2 separate regions of the Homo sapiens genome follow, and region 1 is linked to region 2. The links come from fine-mapping of genetic effects on gene expression. A gene starts in region 2. The other region holds a variant in brackets. All regions are shown on one strand. Distances are from middle to middle.

Region 1 (11,876 bases), 87 kb before region 2:
GCTCACGCCTGTGATCCCAGCACTTTGGGAGGCCGAGGCGGGCGGATCACGAGGTCAGGAGATTGAGACCGTCCTGGCTAACACAGTGAAACTCCGTCTCTACTGAAAATACAAAAAAATTAGCCAGGCGTGGTGGCAGGCACCTGTAATCCCAGCTACTCGGGAGGCTGAGGCTGGAGAATGGCGTGAACCCGGGAGGTGGAGCTTGCAGTGAGCCAAGATCGCGCCACTGCACTCCAGCCTGGGCAACAGAGCAAGACTCTGTCTCAAAAAAAGAAAGAACTTTTGATATACGCTACGATATGGATGAACCTTGAGGACACTGTGCTGAGTGCAATAAGCCAGTTACACAAGGACAAATACTATGTGACTGCATTCATATGAGGTCCCTAGAGTCATCAAATCAGAGAGACAGAAACCGGAATGGTGGTGGCCAGGGGCTGGCGGAGGGGGAAGGGGGAGTGATGTAACAGGGACACGGGTTCAGCTTTGCAAGGTGGAAGGAGTTCCGGAGATGACGGTGGGGATGGCCGCATACAATGTGACTGTACCTAATGCCGATGACCTGTGCACTAAAAAAATGATTGAGAAGGTAAATTTTATGTCATATGTACTTTAGCACAATTTTTAAAATAATTATAATAGGCCAGGCGGGGTGGCTCCCGCCTGTAATCCTAGCACTTTGGGAGGCTGAGATCAGAAGTTTGAGACCAGCCTGGCCAACATGGCGAAACCTCATCTCTACTAAAAATACAAAAATTGGCAGGGCGTGGTTGCACTTGCCTGTAATCCCAGCTACTCGGGAGGCTGAGGCAGGAGAATCGCTTTAACCTGGGAGGCAGAGGGTGCAGGGAGGCAGAGGTTGCGGTGAGCCAAGATCACGCCACTGCACTCCAGCCTGGGGGACAGAGCAAGACTCCATCTCAAAACATATCTATAAAAATATAAAAAGTCCCATCCGAGGGCTGCCCTGGACTCTGGCCCCACCTGAGTCCTTGCTGGGTACCTTTCCCACGAGGCTGGGAAATGCTGGGAAATGAGCACATTTTCTTCCAAGTCCCCCACCTCAACCCACGAGGGTACAGGCCAGCCCTTCACTGGGGGCTTTTTGGAATCCAACTTCTTCTGGCACCTCAGGCTCCAAAGAAGCCTCTCCCCTGCCAGCTGCAGCCCCCACGCACCTTCAAACCACGGCGGGTCCTCAGCCCGGGTCTCGGCCGCGATGTTCTGGCTGACGTTGTGCAGGAGGTCAGCCAGCAGCCTCTGCCTCTGTGGGGCCTGCTCATCACACAGCAGCTGCTGGGCGGCCTGGATGAGCCCCACCTGTGGCTCGTGAAATGCACTGAGGAAGCGCCTGATGTCGCTCACATCTGCCACCAATGGGACAAACAAAAGGTGCCGGTCCAGCAGAAGACACATCCTGCCCCGGTCACAAGAAGAGCCTCTGACCACATCTTCCCCCATTCCCCAGGGCCTGGCAATCACCAGGACTCAGACTTGAGGTGTCCCGGGTCTTTGTCCTTGCCCTGACACCAACAGCTGGGGACCACGCACAAGGGCGGCATGAGGACAGAGGAGGGAGGGGCAGGGTGTGCTTTAGAGGACAGATGAAAGCGCACCAAGAGACGGCCGCTTTCCCATTTGGCCTCCTCCCCTCCAAACCATACGCCCCCCACTTTGGCCCTTCCTGGAGACCTTGCTTTCAGATCCTTCCGATCACTTTTCCTACTCTCTCCTGGAGCCTTTTCACAACTCCCTAAAGCAGCGAGCTCTCCGGGCAGGCTCTTAATAGGAAGTTAAAGCAAAGTCTACCCAGGACCTTAACAAAATGTTAGCAAAGAGAACTCAGTAACATGCACAAAGAAATATCACCACGGCCAAGTGGGAACGCAAGGCTGGTTCACACCTGCAAATCGATCAGTGCGATCCACCATATGAGAAAAGCCTCACGATCACATCAGTGGGTCAGAAGAAGACAGGAGGACATGCTGGGGAGTGAGGACTTGGTGGAAGTCCTTAGACCTAACATCAAAAGCACTGCGTAAAAGAGAAAATCAACACACTGAGCTTCCTCAAAACTAAAAACTCTTACTCCGCAAAAAAAAAAATGCTCTTAAGAGAATGAAAAGCCACAGGGTAAATATTTGCAAACCACATGTCTGACAAAGAACTCATGTCCAGGTATTTTGTTTGTGGGGTGAGGCGTGACTTTCAAAACTCAACAGTAAAAAAATAGATAAATAAGCCAATTAGAAAAAGGACAAGAGACAGGAAGAAACACTTCACCAAGGAGAATCTACAGATGGCAAATAAGCACATAAGAAGATATTTAGGGCTGGGCGCGGTGGCTCACGCCTGTAATCCCAGCACTTTCAGAGACCGAGGTGGGAGAATCACTTAAGGGCAGGAGTTTGAGACCAACCTGGCAACCAAGACCCCATCTCTAAAAAAAAAAGCAAGACCCCCATCTCTAAAAAAAATCATAATAATTAGCGGCACATGGGGGTGCACACCTGTAGTCCCAGTTACTTGGGAGGCTGAGGTAGGAGGATCGCTTGAGCCCAGGAGTTCAGGGTTGCAGTGAGCCATGATTGCCACTGCACTCCAACGTGGGCAACAGAGTGAGACCCTGTCTCTGTTTTTATAAAAGATATTCAGATAGTCAGCATTGTTAGCCATTAGGGAAATGCATATTAAGGGCACAACGAGACATCACCACACTGCAATCAGAATGGCTAAAATTAAAAACAGCAACAGCGCCGAAAGCTGGCGAGGCTGCACAGAAACTGCGCAGTGGAAAGGTAAGACGGCCACTCTAGCACACAACTTGGCAGTTTCTTTTCTTTATTTTAAGTAGCTTTATTGAAATATAATTCACACTCCTTATAATTCACCCATTTAAAGTGTACAATTCAGAGGCCGGGCGCGGTGGCTCACGCCTGTAATCCCAGCACTTTCGGAGGCCGAGGCAGGCAGATCACAAGGTCAGGAGATCGCGACCATCCTGGCCAACATGGTGAAACCCTGTCTCTACTAAAAATACAAAAATTAGCTGGGCGCAGTGGTGCATGCCTGTAACCCCAGCTACTCGGGAGGCTGAGGCAAGAGAATCGCTTGAACCCAGGAGGCAGAGGTTGCAGTGAGCCGAGATCGCGCCACTGTACTCCAGCCTGGGGAGAGAGCAAGACTTCATCTCAAAAAAAATAAATAAAATAAATAAAGTGTACAATACAATGGGTTTTATTATATTCCCAGAGTTGTGCAGCCACATCCACAGTCAATTTCAGAACATTTTCACCACCTCAAAAAGAAACCTCATACTCTTTAGCTACCAACCTCCCTCCCCTCTACCCTACCCCCAACCCTAAACAACCACTAATCTATTTTCCATCTCTCTAACATCCCCGTTCTGGGTATTTCCTATGAATGGAACCCTACTGTATGTGCAGGCTTCTTGACTTGGCATGGTTTCAAGGCTCGGCCATGCTGTGTTTCATTCCTCTTCATGGTGAGTACTTCCATTGTATGGATGTGCCACACTCTATTGATCCAAGTGTTCATCATTGGAGACTTAGGTGGTTTCTACCTTTTGGCTATTATGAATAAAGCTACTGTAAACGCTCACGGACGAGTTTTGGTGTGGACGTGTTTTCATTTCTCTTGGGTACATACCTAGGAGTGGAGCTGCTGGGTCACATGGCGATTCTGTGTAATTGTTGAGAAACTGCCAGACTATTTTCCACAGCAGCTGCACCGTTTTCCCTTCCCATCAATGGGGCCTGAGGGTTCCAGCCGCTCTGCATCCTCGCCCACACTGGTTGTTATCCTAGTGGGTGTGAAGTAGCATCTCACTGTGGTTTTGATTTGCAGTTCCCTGACGACTGATGATCTCAAGCACCTTTTCCTGTGCTTACGACCACTTGAATATCTTCCTTGGAGACATTTCTTTCTTTTCAGAACCTTTGCCCATGTTTAATTGGGTTATCTTTTTACTATTAAGTTATAAGGATTCTTTATATATTCTGATGCAAGTCCCGTATTAGATACATGATTGGCAACTATTTTGTCCTATTCTGTGGGCTGTCGTTCACTGCAGCCTCCACCTCCCCGGTTCAAGCAATTCTCCTGCCTCAGCCTCCTGAGTAGCTGGAATTACAGGCGCCTGCCACCACGCCCGGCTAATTTTTGTATTTTTAGTAGAGACGGGGTTTCACCATGTTGGCCAGGCTTGTCTCAACTCCTGACCTCAAGTGATCTGCCCGTCTCGGCCTCCCAAAGTGCTGGGATTACAGGCTTGAGCCACCGTGCCCGGGCCAGAGTTCTTAATGTTGATGAAGCCCAATTTATCTGTTTTTTCTTCTGCTGCTCATGTTTTTGGTGTCAAATCTAAGAATCTTTTGCCAAATCCAAGGCGATGAGGACTTATCGCTATGTTTTCTTCTAAGGGCTTTATATTTTTAACTTTTACATTTAGGTCTTTCATTTATTGTACTTTTTGTATAAGGTACCAGCTAAGAGTCCAACTTCATTCTTTTGTATGTGAATATACAGTTGTCCCAGCACTATCTGTTGAAGATACTACTCTTCCCCCTCCGTTGAATGGTCCTGGCATCCTGACCACAGATACATAGATTTCTGGGTGCTCTGTTCTATTCCATTGATCTATATATCTGTCCTTGTACCAGTGTCAGTCTTGATTACTGTGGCTTTGTACTAAGTTTTGAAATCAGAATATGTGGGTCCTCCTACTATCTTCTTTTTCACAGTCGTTTTGGCTATTCTGGGTCTCTTGCAATTCCATATGAACTGTGGATTAGAATCAGCATGTCAATTTCTACAATGAAACCAGCTGGAATTTTCATAGGGATTGTGTTGAATTTGTAGGTCAGTTTGGGGAGTCCCACCATCTTAACAATGTTAAGTTTTCCAATCCATGAACATGGGATGTTAATCCATTTATTCAAAACTTTAATTTCTTTCAACAACATTTTGCAGTTTTCAGAATATAAGTATTACAATTTTTTGTTACACTTATCCTAAGTATTTTATTCTTTTTGATGCCAGTGTAAATGGGATGATTTTCTGCTTCATTTTCAGATTGTTCGTTGGAAGTGTATTTCTATATTTGCATATGATCTTATATCCTTCAACCTTGCTAAACTTGATGATTAGTTCTAATCACTTTTTAGTGGATTCCTTAGGGTTTTCTACATACAAGTTCATATGATCTGCAAATAGAAATAGCTTCACTTCTTCCTTTCCAATCTGGATGCTTTTTATTTTTCTTGCCTAAATGTCCTGGCTAGACCCTGCAGTACCATGTTAAACAGAAGCAGCAAGAGTGGACATCCTTGTCTTCAGAAACTAAACACACACCACACAACGCAGCACTGTACTCCTGGGCATTCTCCCCAGAGGCATGAAAACCTACATCTCGCAAAAACCTGTCAAGATGGCCAGGTGCGGTGGCTCACGCCTGTAATCCCAACACTTTGGGAGGCCAAGGCGGGTAGATTGCTTGAGCCTAGGAGTTATAGGCCACCCTGGGCAACATGATGAAGCCCTGTTTCTACAGAAAATACAAAAATTAGCCAGGCATGGTGGTGCACCCCTGTAGTCCCAGCTACTCAGGGGCGGAGGTAGGAGGATCGCTTGAGCCCAGGAAGTGAAAGCTAGAGTGAGCTATGATTGCACCACTGCACTCCAGCCTGGGCGACAGGGTGAGACCCTGTCTCAAAAGAAAACAAGAAAGAAAAAAGAAAAACTTGTACATAATTGGCCAGAGCAGCTTCATTTGTAATAGTCAAAAACTGGAAACAAACAAAATATCTTTCCACAGGCGAATGGTTGAACAAACTGTGGTAAAACCAAACCATGGAATGCTACTCAGCAATGAAAAGGAACGGACTATGGATACACACAACTTACATGCATCTCGGGAGCCTTATGTGGAGTGAAAAAGGCTCATCTCAAAAGGTCACATACTTTATGATTCCACTTACCTAATATTCTTTTTTTTTTTTTTTTTGAGATGGAGTCTCAGCCTGTCACCCAGGCTAGAGTGCAATGGCACAATCTCAGCTCACTGCAACCTCCACCTGCTGGGCTCAAGCGATTCTCCTGCCTCAGCCTCCT[G/A]AGTAGCGAGATTACAAGCGCCCGCCACCATGCCCAGCTAATTTTTGTATTTTTAGTAGAGACGGGGTTTCACCATGTTGCCCAGGCTGGTCTTGAACTCCTGATCTCAGGTGATCCACCCACCTCGGCCTCCCAAAGTGCTGGGATTACAGGTGTAAGCCACCGCACCTGGCCCCTAATATTCTTTAAATGACAAAATTATAGACATGGAGAACATATCAGCAGTTGCTACGGGCTAGGGATTGCTGGTGGGCAGGGGTAGGCAGGATTATAAAGGGGAGAACCTTGAGTGATGGATGGGAGAGGGCTGTACCTTGACCCTGATGCTGGTCACAGGAATCTACATGGGGAGAAATGACAGAACAACATGCACATTGCACTAGTGTCGGTGTTCCTGTTTTATATTGTACCACGGTTGTATCTGATGTTGCCTTTGAGGGAAAGGGTAGAGGTACATTGGACCTTCCTATCTGTGCAACTTCCTGGGAATCTGTCATTATTTCTAAATAAACGGTTTAGGCCAGGCACAGTGGCTCATACCTGTAATCCCAGCACTTTAGGAGACCAAGGCAGGAGGACAGCTTGAGCCCAGGAGTGTGAGACTATCCTGGGAAACATGGCGAAACCCTATCTCTACAAAAAATACAAAACAATTAGCCAGACGTGGTAATGCATGCCTGTGGTCCCAGATACTTGGGAGGCTGAGGCAACGGGATCACTTGAAACACGGAGGTCGAGGCTACAGTGAGCAAGGTTTGTGCCACTGCACTCCAGCCTGGGCAACAAAGTTTCAAAATATAAATAAAACAAAAATATTTTGGCCAGGCACAGTGGCTCATGCCTGTAATCCCAGCACTTTGGGAAGCCAAAGTAGGAGGACTTCTTGAGCCCAGGAGTTTGAGGCCAGCCTGTGCAACAGAGGGAGACCCCATCTCAATGTTTTCATAAAAGAAAAGAAAAAAAATTTTTTTTAAGTCTAACAAGGAGGAGGACTAGCGGTCTCAGCGAAGAGAGGAGGATAAAGCGCCAGAGAAAGGAAGGACAGAGAGAGAGAGAGACAGAGACAGACAGAGAGAGCCAGAGACAGAGACAGAGGAGAGAGACAGAGACTGCGAGATGCAGGGAGAGACAGAGAGAGAGCAACGTGCTCTGCTGTCTTTCAACTATGCCCTGAAATGGGAAAGAAAGATAACATCCAAAGGTGAGGCATACCCTGAGCATACCCCTGCCCAGCCCCCACCTCCTGCAGGGGCCACCCCAGGGGGCATCACAGTGATACATTTTCCAGCTGCCTCCTCTAAAAGCACAAGGCCCAGTGGAGAAAGGGGGTTTGCAACCTTGGAGCACACACCAGAGGCGTCACCCCTCAATGCTGACAGTGGAGCCCCCAACACTGTAGCCGGGGAGGTGGCCACATGGATGTTACTCTTCGACTTCTCTCTTTTTGCCCCTTAGGCCAAGGAGCCACAGCTCCATCCCTCAGAGCACCCATGTCCTTCCTGGGCTGCCAGAAGCATCTCCTGGAGCCTGACCCCATTTGCACAACACTGGCCGACCCTCCCAGGTAAAGGCACATGATGGCATCTCCTGCCCCAGTGGCCAAAAGCTCTCTTTTACGGGAGTCAAACAAGCGCAGACCTTGGCATTCGGCTGGTTCTGAAAGGCAGGACTTTGTGTCCTGAGGCTTCAATACAGATGCCCCGAAAGAACCACCTCTCAAAGCAATTGCCCCCAAACTTGAGCCCTGAGGACAGCATCTTAGCAAACACCAACCGAGAACAATGTGAGAGCATCCCACGAACCACCACCTCGTCCTTCCAGAAGGGTGCTCAGCCCAGCAGAACAGAACAGCATCTCTTCCTGGCTCCACCTTCCCCATGAAACTGTGCAGGCCCCAACCCCAAAGCCCTCCCTCTGCTCTTGGGAATTGCTAGGACACCTCAAATGAACGCAAATAAAATTAAAAGATTTTTTGAAGAAAAAGACGACCAATTGAACAGCTGGGTTCATGAACGAGAGGACTGAGGACTCTGCCACCTAAGCGACGCTGACCAGTTCTGCCTCCAGAGGGCTTCCTCCTTGAGACCCGAGAGTTCACAGTAAGGGGGACTCTTCCCCACCCTGATGGGCACCTGGAGCTAAGCCCCCAGGACCTCGGAGAGTGCCAGCTTCCCGCCCACCTCCAAAGTCCTTGCCACTCACAGCCCTGCCAGGCCTGGCCCAAGGTGAGCAGCACCAGCTCGGCGTTGTCGGGAACACTGGGGAAGTAATCTTCCGTCAGCTCCGTGCCATCCTCGTACAGGCACAGCCGGGAACCGCGCTCAGGGAGCTGCAGGGACGGGAGAAGCAACAGGAGGAGGAAGGGTCTCAAGACGAGGGCTTTGCATCTGCAGGCCTCACAAACGACCGGAATGAGCTGTGCTTAAAGAAGCAGGCTCAGGCTGCCGCCTGTATGCCACAGTCGCTCCAACGCCCAGGCAAGGATGAGGGAGCGGGAGCAAGGGCGCCTGACTGCGGGCCGTTCTAAAATACGAAGAGTCAGGAAAAACATACATCAGGGGGTGACTGCTGGCTCTGCAGGATTCACCCTTTTTAAATGAGCTCCTGAGGGCGCTTCAAATAGAGCCTGTCTTTGACAGCGCCGCCTCCCTGCTGCCAGGAGCTGAACACCACCATCCCCAGCACACAGCCGCCAGAGCGGTGCTGGCACACGAAGGAGAACGGTTGGTTGCCTCTGTGCACAAGTGTGACCGGCACGTGGCACTGTTAATTTGTTGGAGTCCGGTTCCCTGTTACTCTGCACTGGTCAGTTTTAGGCATTTTATGGCTACTCCCACCCCACCCGCACCGACCCCGGCAATGCACACCTGGTAACCCTAGTACTGGTCTAAAAAGAAAACCAACCTAGAATAAGGTGACGATTGCAATCCCCAGCTGCGAGGGCTGGAAGGGGCCTGCAGAGCCCACCTAGCCAAGCCTTTCATGTTACTCAAGGGGAAGCTGAGGCCGGACAGGCAGAGCAGCCGTGACCCCGCGTGCCAGTACCTGGCACTCTACCCGGGTCTCCTAGCTCTGATGCAGGGCTGTCCTGCCCGAGAGGTGGGAAGAGGGAAGGGGTGATCCAGGTCGTCCCCCAACCCCCCTGCGTTCTGAAGCCACGCTCAGGAACCCCAGGCTGCGGGGGCCCGGGGTCCTAGCGGCTGAGGCGAACGAAAACTACCCGCCCCGGGCGCCGCCTGCACCCTCCGTTTTGGAAGAGGAAAAGCGGCACCTCCTATTCTCCCCACACGCCTCCCCGACGGGCCGTCCCCGCCTAGCCCAGCGGGCACCTGGAAGCGGAGACAGCCCTTGCGCAGCACCTCCTGGCAGCTCCGGCCAGCCACGCCGAACTTCCTCGGGCTGCGCAGGGCCCGCAGCTTCACGCTCTTGGGCTTCTGGAGCATTGCAGATGTCCTCAAGCCCTCTGGGTCCCACAGGCGGTGGCACCTGCTGCCCAGCTGCTCAGATCCGTCCTCGCCCTGGCCGCAGGGGTCTGCACCTGGTGAGCTCTGCAAGCTGGCACAGGCCGGGTGCCGATCCCGGAAACTACATTACCCAGAAGGCCTGGGAAAAGTGAGGCCCGACGCGGTCTTGTGCGCAGGCGTCGCCCCACGGACACCACATTACCTTACTCAGAAGGCTCAGGAAAGCAAAGGCGCGACGCCACCTGGTGTGCCCAGGTGCCGTGGCCCCGGAAACTACACAACCCTGAGGGCCAGAGTAGCGGAGCCCTCCCCTTGTGCGCAGGCGCGGCCTGGGGTGGGGCGGGGTCGCGCACGCGCAGAGGCCCTGGCCCAGGGCTGGGCTTGGTTGTCATGAGAGTGGAGGCTGCGGCCGGGGCTATGGGCAGAGGTGGCCGGGTCTGCTTCTTCCCTGTCACTGCCGCAGCAGCTTGGGGTGCAAGGCGGCCTGGGGCGGCGGAAGGGGCGCCCCCCGAGTTCCGTCTGAGGAAGCGGCGGCTGCCGAGGAAGTCCACGAGAGCCGGGTCCCGCACGCCCCTGGGGTCCGGGTGCTGAGGCGCCGCCTGGCCGCCTCCCCGGGCCGCGGCACCGCTCCGACCCAGCCGCCCTCTCCACCGGGGCCGCGGCAGCGCCAGTCGGGGCCCTTCCCTCTAAGCAGGTACCTTCCGGGCCGCTGCGGCGCCGGCCCAGGGCCGGAGTGGGGAGCGGGGCGCGGGGCGCGGGGCGCGGGCGCCGCGGGGGCGCGGTCCCCACCTGGGAGCTGGGTACGAAGCCTGGGTGCGCGGTGCAAGCGCGGACGGTGTGGAGTTAGATGCCGGCCTTGCTGTCGCCGAAGAGCCGGCGCGGCCCCGTCGTGCCGTATGCCGGGGAGCTCAGCACGGGTGCTGGGACCGCCTGCCCCGGCCGGGACGGCCCATTTAGCGTGGAATATTGTTTTCAGATCCGGCTTTTCCTCTTCTGGATGCGTAGCACATAGGGGGCCAGTTTCAGATGTGTTCTGCTGAGCAAAAGTTTGAGGAAAATTGCTCTGTCCCTATAGAGATTAAAGTCTGATGGTTGGTTGTTTTTTGTTTTGGAGTTTGTTTTGTTTTGTTTGCACTTAAGTTCAGATTTCTCTGAAGCCCTTTCAGTCGCTAAGATGACTTGATCAGAAACCCATAAGCCTTTGAGACGGTCTCGCTCTGTCGCCCAGGCTGGAGTGCAATGGCACGATCTCAGCTCACTGCAGCCTCCGCCTCCCGGGTTCAAGCGATTCTCCTGCCTCAGCCTCCCGAGTAGCCCGACTAATTTTTTTATTTTTAGTAGAGACGGGGTTTCACCATGTTGGCCAGGCTGGTCTCGAACTCCTGACCTCAAGTAATACGCCCTCCTCGGCCTCCCGAAGTGCTGGGATTACAGGCATGAGCCACCGCGCGCAGTCACACTTAAAAGTCTTCTTAAAAAGAAAATCAGAGACAAGTTTTGTTTCCTAGTCTTGTAACAAAATGGAAGTTGCTACACTGAGTTTCCGTTTAATTTATAGTTAATTGCCTTTTACCATGCCAGCACTAGGAAAAGTGTAGTGAGGGATGAGACCGCCATGGAGTCATCGCTGCCTGGGGAGAGATGTACTCTGGCATTTGTCGGGATGTCGATGGCTGCCCCTGGGACAACAGGGATCCCTCATGCCTCTGGTGAGGAAGACCAGCCAATAACTGGATGTTCAACAGAGCTTTGCTTCTTCCCAAATTGTTAATGGTGATTTTTATAGAGCCTAAAAGTGGCATCCTTCAGTGACATTCCAAGTATCTTATGTAACACTTGAAGGTTTACACAGAGGGGACCCTAGGGTACAACTGGAAGGTCTTTGGGAGGGGGTAGACTAAAAAAGGAATCCTTTTCAAATACCAGACTGAGGTAATAGCATTGCCTCCACAGTCCCTGTGCATTTCTCTTAGCTGGTTCTTAAATGCCAGTACTTTGTTTTAGATTTGTTGGGGGCAGTATAGCATACTGGAAACACCCTTCTGTTTGACTGAAAAGGTCCTATATTTATGTCTTCGAGCCGTAACAGAGAGTGTTGGTTAGGTTCAGAGACTAGCCAGGCTCGGCGGCTCACGCCTGTAATCCCAACACTTTGGGACACTAAGGTGGGAGGAGTTCAAGACCAGCCTAGACAACACAGTGAAACCCCATCCCTACAAAAAAAAAAAAAAAAAGTAGCTGTGCATGGTGGCATGTGCCTGTAGTCCTAGCTGCTCA
Region 2 (11,321 bases):
AATATTCTCGTGCAGTGTGTTTGGAATCCTGGTCTGGGCTCTCGTCGTTGGCCTTGTAGATCAAGTAGGGGAAGTGAGTGATGTTCAGTCATGCTGCTGGGACACTTGGTTTTCCAGATGAAAACACATAAATAAAACTACATGCACCATCGAGGCTTGTGTAAAGACTCTGTGATCACACAGCAGCGGCTAAGCACACGTTTCTCATGTGTCACTGAGCGACACGTGACTGTCACTGGTTCGGAGACCCGAAAACTTGGGAAGCCAACCGATGTGCGTTTCCTTGAACGGCACGGTCACTTTCTATGACGCAGCATCTTGTAAAACCATATCATGCCAGGATGCAGCTTGGCATGTGCAAGGGCGTTGGGTTCTCCAGCTGGCAGTGATCATAATCTTGGGGGGAAAAGTTTTAATGTGACCTTAGAATTGGCAGAATTGCGTCTCTTCATACTGCTGTTGGATTGCTTTGTGGGGGTGGAGATGTGGAGACCCCTTCAGGCAAGCAGCCTGTAGGCTGAAGGCAGTGGCAGCACCTCACCCTGGCTCAGCGGGGCCAAGCGGAGGAGAGCGGCATCGGTGGGGTTTCCATCGTGTGCACGCTGGTGCTGCAGTGACAGGCAGGTGGAGCCCCAGGAGTGGACCAGACGCCTCTGCTTGGGAAGCATCGGCAGTCCTCAGCCAGCCGAGGGACAGATGGTAGCAAAAGCTGGAGGATGCTTAGGTTTTTGAGCCAAAAATCTTCATTTATGCGCCAGAAAGGTGGGTCCTGGGCGCCTTCTGTTGTAGACGTTTCCGTTGTGAATGTCCAGGTCAGACCCCCACGTCCATGTGTCTTCGTGTATGTCCAGGCACCACATGTGCGTGCACACCACTCCCGGGAGTCAGTGTGCTTGGCTCATGAGGACACGGCCAGCCACCGCGATGATTTTACAGACCCCACTGCCTTACGATCTGGGTGCCATGTGAGAAGCAGACTCATCAGCTTTATCGAATGACACCATTTGTTCTCTGTTCAGTGTCTCGATTTCTGTGTCTGTAGAAATGACTGGTGATTTTGGGAAGCATCTGCAAGAGCCCCACAGCCCACACACCTTTAGTTGTCAACCTGAGAGGCCCGGGGCCCTGTGCAGTGGGCAGACTAACAGCTGGGTGGCTCTTCAGAGCCTTGCAGGACATGGGCCAGGCTGCCTTGAGACCTGGACCCACTTGTCTGGTCACCGCCAGGCCTTCCCGTCTCGCCCACTGTGGGAGGGAGGGGACTCCAGACAGGACGAGGCCCACACACTCAGTGCCAGCTGGACTGCCGTGGGTGTGTCAGATGACTGCCTTGCCTTGTGTCCTCCCAAAACCTGATTCCTGCTGCTCTGGGCAGTCAAGGCAGATGCCACAGTTGGCCAGGGGCCTGCCCTGCTGGAGGCTTGAGGCGGCACGGGGGCTTCCCCAGGCCAGGACTCTGCTGGAGTTCTGGGGCTGGGGACCCCAGACAGTTGCTCTGAGAGGTGATTTGGGGCTGCCATGGCAGAGGCTGCCCTTTCTCTGCATGGCCCGGCCCAGCCCGGGAAGGAGGAAGGGAGGAAGGGAGGGATGCTGGAGCTGCCATCTTGGCTCCCGGGGACTTGGTGTCCATGCTGTAACACATCTGTCACTGCGTGGGTGTGGATGAGGCTGCCACATGCTGTGCCCTTTCCTGATGCAGCTTGTGATGCGTGAGATGCTGGAAATGTATTTAACTCGCAGCACAGGTGTCTCTGATGTTTTCTTCACCCCACCCCACCCCCCGACTCACTAATAAAAACAGCTCCGCACCTGGCCCAGCAGATCCTTTCCCACCGGCACTGCCAGAGGTTGTTGCTCGAAGTGTCACAAAGCTCACTCTAGCCCAGTGGTGGCTTCTATGTGGGGAGGCTGAGGGCCTCCTGTCCCCACCCAGATCTTGCCAGCAGGGAGCAAGAGGCACCTGCCACTGTCATGGGGAAGCTGGTGCCCTTGACCAGGGGTCCTGGGAACTGGCCTCACCCTGCTGGGCCCCTGCCTGGAGCACAAGGTGGACCAGAGGTGTCGGGCTGCCTGGATACCCCAGGTGCACAGTCAGAGGAGCCCAGGCCCCAGACGCATCCACAGCAGATCCTCCTGTTCGTGAGTCTCTGGGAGGGTAGGCCAGGCGGCCACTCAGCAGGGTCCTGTCCCATCCTCTCCCCAACCCTCCCAGAGCTGTAAGGACACTGCTCAGCTCAGCCTAGGTCCATGACCCTGGGGGTACTGGGGCTGGAGCTGCTGTCTCCACCATGGTCACTTAGGGGACAAGTGGTGTGCCCGAGAGGCGGCTGTGGGTTACTTGAGTGCCTGGCCCAATGAGCACCCGTGGGTGTCTGCCTGTAGCCTCCCCTGCTGGGGCTGGCAGGGCTGCTGGTGGAGCCCCTGGCTGAAGATGCTGGGCCCCTGCCAGGGCGGACCCAGATGCAGCCAGACAGATCCAGGGCAGACCCGACATGCGCCTGTGCCATCTGATGCCAGCCCCTGACAGGTGGGAAGGAGCATTTGTGGGGGTGCGTGGGCATCACTGGCATGCGGGACCCGTGGCAGAAGCACCAGGGCCACTTCCCCTCTGACTGTAGAACTGGGACAGCTCCCATCCCCATCCTGTGCCCTCGCCTGTCTCCTGGGCCGCACCAGTTCTTGGGGAGGCCCAGCCCCAGGACCCCCAGGTCGGAGTGCTGCCTTCTGGGGCCCATGCAGCCAAACTGCTGGGCCCAGCGGCCTCTGCCACTTCCTTACAGCAGCCCCAAGGCAGTGCTGTCCTGTGAAGCTGGGCTTCAGGGAGGGTACCAGCTGGCTACTCCTTTCCCTCCTTGGGAGTGGCAGGTCAGAGGTAGGGATCTCTTTTTGAAGATCCAGGCTGTCATGGGGCTGGGGCAGGCAGCAGCCCACCCAACAACAGGCTCCCAGGAAAGCATCATTGCTTCAGACCGCAGCCCAGGACAGGCCCTTGGGCTCCCTCCTTGGGTTTGGAGCCAGGAGCCTTGGGGCAGTGTGCAATCAGCCATGCAGCTCCACCTGCCACCGGCTGGCCCAGGCAGATCTCAAGTGAGCCTGCTCGCCCCAAAGGCGGATGATGTGGAGTCTGCCTCCCTACCAAGACTGGCGCAGCCCCTCCTGTTTACCTGACTTGATGCTTTCGGCGGGACCTGGCCTGGGGCAGGCGCAGCCTCAGCCCTCCAATAACCTCATCTGGCCCTGTGGCCTCCCTTCTCTGTGCCCGTGAGGATAGTGGCTGCCCGTGTCTCCCACCCCCAGCCCTGGGGTGAGGACCCCTTCCCTAAGGGGATGTTTCTGGCAAGGCTTTTTGGGATCTTTTGTGGTAGGTGAGGGCCAAACACAAGACCCAGGAAAGCACCTACCAAGAGAATGGAGGTTGGGACCGGGGGCTGGGACTGGAGGCCAGGATCGGGGTGGGGGGAATGGGACCGAAGTCCCTGGGACACAGCTGAGGTCCAGCCACATCCGGGTCCCCAGGCCTGCCGGCTGTCCTCGCCAGAGGGCCCAATTGGTAGGGGTGCATTCCTAGAGCCACATGGGAGGGGGGCCTGCCCCGGGGAAACAAGCCCTTCCCACAGCCTTCCTGGATGTCACGCCTGGCCAGGTAACTATGGCAAGGGCTGTCATCCACCGTTCATTCAACAGACACTTAATGCCTCTGTACACAGGCTCTTGGCCCACAAGGAGTACTTGGAGGGACCAGGCCCATCCCTGGGGAGGGAGGGTAGACCCGGGTCCTCCCTGGCAGCCGCCGGCCCCAAGAGGGACACACCCAGCCTCTGCGCGTGGTGGGCTGCCTAGGAAGAACTGTGCCCACTTACTAAGGAAGATATGGTGCATCTGAGACAAGGGCGGGGGACACATAGCCACCCTTACAAAACCAGGAGTCAGAAAGGCCCAGAGAGGACAGGGGCCTGCCCAGGGCCACACAGCTCTGCACACTGCTCCCACGGAGGAAAGCAGCCGGGAGGATCCCACCCCGGGGGGCTGCCAGGGAGGTGGGCTCGGTTTGTCCGCTGAAGGAACCCCTCATCCTGGCCTTCACAAGGGAAGGGGCTGGGCCCTGGGAGAGAGGAGGCTGTAGCTGGGGGCTCCAGGCCGCAGGGCCCAGCCTGGGTGTGTCCTGCAGCTCCTGCTGAGGCTGGGCCCAGGCCTCCCAGCCACGTGTGCCCAGCTGTTTGTAGGTCCTTTGAAGGGCTGTGTGCCAGGTGTTTGTGCGCCCCCGTGTGGGGCCGATGACAGCTGTGCACCTGGTGTCTTCGTGTGCCTGGCTGCCAGCGCGTGTGCCCTGTGCGCTGTGTGTGCCGCAGGGTCCGTGTCTGTGGGGGGGTCCATGTGTACAAGGGGTGTGTCTCCAGGCCTGTGCTCTCACGTGTGCGGCCAGCCCCCCGCGTGCATGCGGGGCAGCATTTATTTGCACTTGTGCACATAGTAGCCTGTGAGGTAGCCCAGGATGAAGATGATCCAGAAGAGGGCCACGCCGCCCAGCACCTTCATGGCGATGCCCAGCTTGCCCGTGCACAGCCTCTGGGAGATCCTGGGGTGAGAACCAACTGGAGGTGAGCCCCAGGCCAGGGCCGCATGAGGGGCCCCCTAAGTGGACTGTGGCCGTTGGTCTGGGTCAGGGGGAGGGGCCTGGGCGCTCTGCTGGAGTCAAGAGGAAGCTCTCCCCGCCCACAGCCAACCAGAGGGAAGGCCAAAGGCTGCGGTTTGCTGAGCTGCTGGACCGTGGGCTCCCAGCCAGGATGGGGTGGAGGGTGATGGGGCCGGTAGCAGGGGTTAGGGCAGGCGTCTCTGGAGGGAGACACCAGCCTGCTATGGCTGGCAGGCTGCCCTCAGGCCCCTCACCTGCGGCAGCGTGAGGCCTCTTCTGTGCTGGACACAGCCCCTAGGCTGACTCCGTCCCTGCTGCCGTCCTCCCACCTACTATAGTGGACGTGGCTCTCCTGGGGCTGCATGCTGTGGGGCTGCAGCGGGAGGGGCGGGGCCTTCTCGGTGGGGAGATCAAGACAGGTGGCCAGGCTGTGGCTTCACTGTAAAACAAGCGGATGGAGGGCGGCAGTCAAGACCCCCTCTGAGGCTGCTGTTAGGAGAGGGGCACTAAGGGTCGGGGGCTGACTCCCTCACCGGGTCTGTCGCCTGACTTAACAGGTGACCTAGACACAAAGTGGTAGAGTCATTTGCCCAGGGTCAGGCCGGGAGGATGGGACCAAGCGAGAATTCCATCTCAGGCCAAGCCCTGACCTCAGGCATGTGGGAGGCCAGTGTTTCCTTCCAGCACACTCCAGGAGCCTCCCTTCCCCGGTGCTTTTATCAGGGAGCCTGCACAGCCTGCCACCCTCAAGAGACGAGGACATTGTGGCCCAATCTAGGCTGCAGCCCCTGATAACTGTCCCCCTCCTTAACCCTGCCCGATAAGGCGCCTTCTGGCCTCTGGGGAGGCTGGCCAGGGGAGGGGGGGGTGGGGCAGGGCAGCAGGTCCGGGGCAGCGGCTGGTACAGCTAGACCGGTCCCTGTCTGGGGAGGATGCGTGGCTGGCCCCAGGCAGTGGCAGCAGCTGTGTCCTCAGCCTGTGTGGGTTGCAGCCCCTCCCCCACCCACACCTCTAGGAGGGCTGGGGCTTGGGGGGCATGATGCACTGAGCACGGGGCCGGGGTGGATTCAAGGCCTTGGGGAGGCCCTACAGAGACAGGAGGGTCGTAGGGCTGGGTGGCTGCCCAGAGCAGGAGGGGCCCGGCCCCAAGGCCAGCTCCCTGCTGGGCTCCAACTCCTGCAGACCTGGGACTCATCTTTGCATCTCGGCACTCAGCTCGGTGCCTGGCAGCCCAAGTGCCCAGAGGGGCGAGGAGACCACGGGGACTGAGCAGGAACTCCAAGCACTAGCACAGCTGCCCGGCCGGCCTGAGCCAGCCCGGACTCTAAGCACCTCCTTTACCCTCTGGCCTCTGTTTCGACCTCCTATTTACCTAAGGGGGTGTGGGGGTGGAGGAGTTGGAGGGGGCACGAGAAGTTGACAACCCACCCAGGCTGTGGGACTGGGGTCAGCTCTCTGGTCTGCTGGGCCCCCAGTGTCCCCTCTCAGCATCTGGCCCCCAGGAGTGGGGTCCTCGGGCAGGCAATGGCAGGCCCCTCACTTCTAGGAGCTGAGGCTTTGCTGGGCCCCCTCCAGCGGGGAAGGCTGACCTTCCTCCCAGGTCATCGGCACAGAGGCCTAAAGGCACAGCAGCCACTCCCCTGCAAGAAGCCAGCTCAGAAACTCAGGCCCCAGGCAGTTCTGAGACTCCCGGCACTTCCATGTCTGCCTTCCCCCAAAGCCCAGAGAGGCAGAAGGAGCTGTCTCAAAGCCATAAAGTGTGCCTTCGGTGGGAGCCCTGGCTCAGTGCAGCCTGGCACTCAGGCCCGGAGAGGCCCAGCCTCTACTGGAGTATGGGTGCTGTTTTCCCGGAGCATGTGGAGCGGTCAGCTGCCTACCCGAGGTTCACGCCCTCTTGCCTGGTGTGCAGAATCCCATTCTGGTCCCAGCAGCAATGTGCCAGCCCCAGGTAACAGCCATGACCCGGGTAAGACAAGCTTAATACCACCACCCCTGCTTTCCCAAGTCACCCAGCTGGGGTCCAGGAGCCAGGGTGCAGCAGGGGATGGGAGAGTTTGCTTCTGTGAAAGCAGCAGCAGCCACCTCCTTCTTCCAGACTCGACGTGATGGCTGGAGCTGCTGGAGCTGCAGCAGCCGCCTTGCAACCCGACATCCACGCAGCATTAGTCTCGGGAGTGCTGAGGCTCCAAGTCCACAGCAGCAGCCCACCATGGGCCTCCCGGTGGGAGGGGTCAAGCCCAGTGTGTTCAACTCTGGGATCATGGGTTCCTGTCTTGCTGACGTAGAACACGTTGTTCCCAAGTCACCCCGGTGCACAGCCACCAGAGCCGGCCCTTGAGGCTGGCCTCCCTCACTTGCTCAGTAAACGTCTCTCCACACTCATGTGATGGTCACAGGTGTGGCGGCAGGAACCCATCAGGGACTCCCCTCCAGGCCCTGGGAGGCTCCCGGATCCTGGCACCTCCTGGGGGCTTGTGAGTGCAGGAAGGCCCTAGGTACACAGGCGCCCCTCCATAGACCTCTTCACCCCACAGCGCCTCAGGGCCCCACACTTACCCGGAGAACCTTGCCTGAGGGCTGGGGCCTCTGGGCCAGGTTGCGGTCAGGGCCTGGCCAGCGGCCCGCACCTCCCAGCGGGGCAGGTCGTGGGCTGAGGTGCGGCAGACGCCTCGAGCCTAAAAAAATAAAGGTGACCGGAGAAGCCGATCTTGCTAAGGGCCGGGAAGGGAAAGTGGCTGGTGTCGGGGGTCCCCAGCAGCCACAAGGAGCCGGGCAAGGAGCCGGGCGGGCAGTTCCGGCCCTGGCCCCGCACCGCGGGTTAGGCCGGTGGGGGTCAGTCCAGGGCACGCCCCCACCCCCGCCAGTTCTCAGCCAGCGAGGCCGCGCACAGTCGCACCTGCCCACTGCGGCCGCACCGGGAAGCCGCAGCCCGGACCCCGCGCGCCTCACCTGTGTCCCCGCGTCTCTGGGCTCCGCAGGGGCCGGGCCTGGGCAGGGGGCGAGGGCGGGGGCGGGGCCACGCGGGGAAGGGCTGGAGCCAGCAGCGGGGAGGTGTCTGGTCCGGAAGGTGGCGGGGCTAGAGTGGTGGGCGGGGCCATGCGGGGAAGGTCTGGGGCCAGTAGCGGGGAGGCGCCTGGTCCAGAAGGGGCCGGGGGCGGGGCGAGAGGGGGCGGGGCGAGAGGGGGGCGGGGCCATGCGGGGAAGGGCTAGGGCCGCAGCGGGGAGGCGCCTGGTCCAGAAGGGGCTGGGGGCGGGGCGAGTGGGGCCGGGAGACGCCTCGTCCGGAAGGGGCCGGGGCTCTAGGCCGCCCAGCCCCGGGGCCAGGAGGTGCAGGGGGGCCGGGCAGGGTCTGCAGAGGGCTGCACTTTCTGCCCCCAGACGGCTCGCCCTTGGGGCCTCCAGGGTCCCCGACCTCCTTCACCCCTGCTGGAGCCCCTCCGACGCCACGAGCCTCCCAGCCCCGCGGGGACCCGGCTGCAGCGCCGACGAGACTGCGGGAGGCTCTGGGCGCGTCTGGGCCTGAATGCTGGGTTCGGGGACCCGGCCGCGGGGACCGTCCTCCTCCGGGGCTTGAGGGGCGTGGCGCCCGCACGTGGCCCACGCTCGGTGCTCGCGGCGGGAAGGGAAGCAGGTGTGGGTGGGGAGCAGAGAAGGGTAATGGGGAGAGTCCCTTCCGAAGGTGTTCAGGCGCCCAGAGCCTCAGAGGCGCCGGGGAAGCGTCGGGGACCACAGACACCGTTCCCGTGCGTAAAGCTTTCCTTCCAGGAGCGGGGGGATGGGAACAGAGCCCCCCACCCTCACCATCTTCCAGAGGGGTCCTCCAGCAAGAGAGTGCCCCAGCCAGGAGAGCCCCCAGGGCAGAAGGTCACAGACCCCTTCTGCTCAGGCGTGAGGTCTGTGCTGAGTGCTGGGCGGACACCCCGGCTCAGGCCTCTGGCAGCCTGGTGCCGCAAGGGGACCTGTTAGGAGCTAGGGGCACAGGCTGGTGTGCTGACTCCCTGTGAGTGAGCTTTGGAATGGGGAGTGTCCTTGTAGCTCAAGGTCGCAGAGGAGAGTAGGCCCCCGCGTGGATCCCAGAGAAGAAAAAGGTGGGACAGTGCCAACACCGGGGTTTAATTCTGAGTCTGAGAGCAGGACGCATGGTGGGGGCGGGTGGTTCTGGAGCTGGGCCCCGGCCTCTGCTGGGCTGACCGTATTTGGGGGCCTGGCTGGGCCTACTTGGAGGTCCCCTTCTTGGATTTGCTGGTCAGGAAGGCCTCTGACTGTTGCAGGGGGGGCACTTTGACGCCTTTCTGCTTCAGCTGATTATAGTAGTCGCTTCTCTCTGAGATAATTCTCTACACAAGAAACACAGCCGTCGAGGTGGCCTTCCCAGTTCCTCACCTTGGCCTTGAGGCCGGTCTGCACAGTCCGTGCCAGCTGCCCGGGACGCCACCCTCTCCTCCTCCTCCAGAGAGGCTTGCTGCAGCAGGGGTGTGCTGGTGAATACTTACAACCGGCTCTCCAGGGGGAGAAAAAACAAACAACCCTCGGCTTTGTGGCGTTGCCAGTTTCTGTGGTGGGAATATTCCCACAGTGGCTGATTTTCAGCCACGGAAGTGAAGTCACAGAATGCGGAGCCGGGGGCAGGTGCACACCACCAGCCCGCAGAAGCCTGCACTAAGCCCCCTCTTCAGCCCTCTTAGAGTTGTGAGGAGCCCCAGACTCCTAGAGATCTTTGAGGTCGTCACATCTGTCCCTCAAGTCCCTTCTGTCCTGTACAGAGGGAATGTTGTCCCCACCTCTCTTCCATTCTCCTCTCTGGGCCGTTGCTGGTTCATGTCAGGCTATGGCAAGCAAGCAAAGGTGCTCTTCCCTGGCTACTGTGCGGTGGGAATAACTCCCTCCATCCTCTGTCTTCCCTCTTCTCTTCCTCTTTCTCTCCCCTTCCTCCTCCCCTCCCCCAGACAACAGTACCAAGGCCGCAGAGACCTCTCTCCACATTACAGCTCTGCAGGAGAGGCACTGTCCAGGGCCCCCCACTCTGCAGAGGAAGGGAACCAGGCCCCAGGAACGTGGGTGCTGGAAGGTCAGGGGCACACACTGGGGTTCAAGGGCAGCCCCAGAGGGTGAAGTGTGGGTCTTGGGAACAAAAGCAGCTCCTGGTGAGAGGTGACCCCTTCGTAGTACACAGCCCCACACAGAGCCATAGCCGGTGCCCGGCTCCCAGAGCTCTGAGTCTTACGACACCTTGCAGGTGAGCATGCGCTGTCCATCACAGAGGGAGGCATCTATGGCTCAGAAAAGTGAGTGTGTGGCCCCCAGCTGGTGGGTGGTGACCCCCTCATGCCCAGTGACCCCAAGGCCTGAATTCTCCTACACCCCTCTACTTCTCCGAGGCCCTTGCTTGGGGACCCCTGGTCAGGAAGGAGCCCAGGAGGCTGTGGCCGGGGTGGGAGGGGTCTGCACCAGGGCCCTGGATCAGTGGGTGGTGATACCAGCGGAGGGGACCAAGCTGGACAAAGCCGGGGCTGGGCTCCTGCTGTGGGAGAATCTTCGTGCCCTGAGCGGCTTGTCCCCTCTCCACAGCGCTCAGGATGGGTTGTGGCAGTTACTGCTGGTCTCTGATGCCCGTCCCCCGTTTTGCTGAGAGTAGCTAAGACTCCCGTGCCATGCCCCCACCTGCCTTAGGATGATTTGATCCCCTCTGCCTGAGCTGAGAGAAAGGAGGGTCCTGGGGTCCAAGTGAATAGGTGACACAGGTAGGATGAGAACAGAGTCCCTGGAATCTAGGCCCCCCACAACCCCCTACCACAGCTCTGGCCTGGGGGTCTGGGGCCCGGATAGAGGCAGCTGAGCTTAGGGGTATACCTGCAGGGCTTCCAGGATGTCATTGTCAGAGATCTCGTTGGCCAAGGACTTGGTCCCGGAGATGCTAAAGGTGGCCTGGATGATCTTATTCCTTAACCTCTCGAGCTGTGAGCAAAGGGACAACACTATCATTCGCCTTTACCCAAGAAGGCACCTGGCCAGTGGGCTGCACCCCCCACCACCTTATTTTTTATGTACCAGGAAGGAACAGCTCACCCTCACTTTTCATGGCTTTAGAAACTGGAAACAGGTGTCAGAGAAGTCAATGTGGATTGTCTGAGAGCTAGGAGGTGCCGGATCCAACCCCTGACCCTGTGCGGCCCAGCCCCAAAGCCCAAAGACTCTCCTACACCAGGTGGGCTTTTCTAATTGGAAAGTAAAACCTACACACACATATATATATATTTTTAAACCAACAAACCAAAATAGTACAGAAGCCGCACGTAACCCCTGGACCATCCTCCACTGCCCAGGGGAGCTGCAGTGAGCGGACTTCCTGGCCCTTGGGGACACTCTCACTTTAGGCATTTAACAGTGCGCTGCTGGTGCTTCCTCCTTTCCATGCTGACTAGGAGGTGTCTGTGCCATGGACAGCAGCGTTGAACCTGGCCCCCGCGCACAGACCCAGAAGGCGTTCTCGTCTTCTGCTGCCATGAAGATCCTTGTCTGCCTGTACACCCGCAGCCGCCTCCCCAGAGGTAGCTAATCGTGCCTCCCAGGAAGCTGCAGAGGAAACCCCTCCAATCTGCACCCCAGGAGCCTCAGACAGGAACCCCTTGAGTTATGCGGCACGCTCAGCACGAGTTCCTCGTCCAGAAACCCTGACGACGCAGAGGTG

What was found. PIP is the estimated chance that this variant, and not a neighbour inherited with it, causes the effect.
Region 1: its variant is fine-mapped to the expression of SMIM1 in whole blood (INTERVAL, PIP above 0.99).

The regions. Positions count from the first base shown.
Region 1 is chr1:3,855,306-3,867,181 of GRCh38, reverse strand. CEP104 (centrosomal protein 104) reads left to right here and starts at 9,971. Exons shown (of 22, transcript NM_014704.4): 1 at 9,971-10,293. It overlaps DFFB (DNA fragmentation factor subunit beta), which reads right to left and starts at 9,706. Exons shown (of 7, transcript NM_004402.4): 1 at 9,465-9,706; 2 at 8,338-8,464; 3 at 1,182-1,370. The coding sequence starts at 9,578. RefSeq lists silencers at 8,825-8,874, 9,805-10,304 and an enhancer at 9,485-9,664. The variant G/A (reference allele first, on the strand shown) is at 6,136.
Region 2 is chr1:3,769,050-3,780,370 of GRCh38, reverse strand. SMIM1 (small integral membrane protein 1 (Vel blood group)) reads right to left here and starts at 7,622. Exons shown (of 4, transcript NM_001288583.2): 1 at 7,583-7,622; 2 at 7,190-7,308; 3 at 4,888-5,072; 4 at 4,415-4,576. The coding sequence starts at 4,997. The coding sequence ends at 4,450. It overlaps CCDC27 (coiled-coil domain containing 27), which reads right to left. Exons shown (of 12, transcript NM_152492.3): 11 at 10,484-10,588; 12 at 8,726-8,970. The coding sequence ends at 8,848. It overlaps LRRC47 (leucine rich repeat containing 47), which reads left to right. Exons shown (of 7, transcript NM_020710.3): 7 at 1-1,812. RefSeq lists enhancers at 4,720-4,779, 4,695-5,210, 5,359-5,503, 6,243-6,758, 6,759-7,274 and 1 more, cis regulatory regions at 5,407, 5,399-5,415 and a silencer at 7,336-8,215.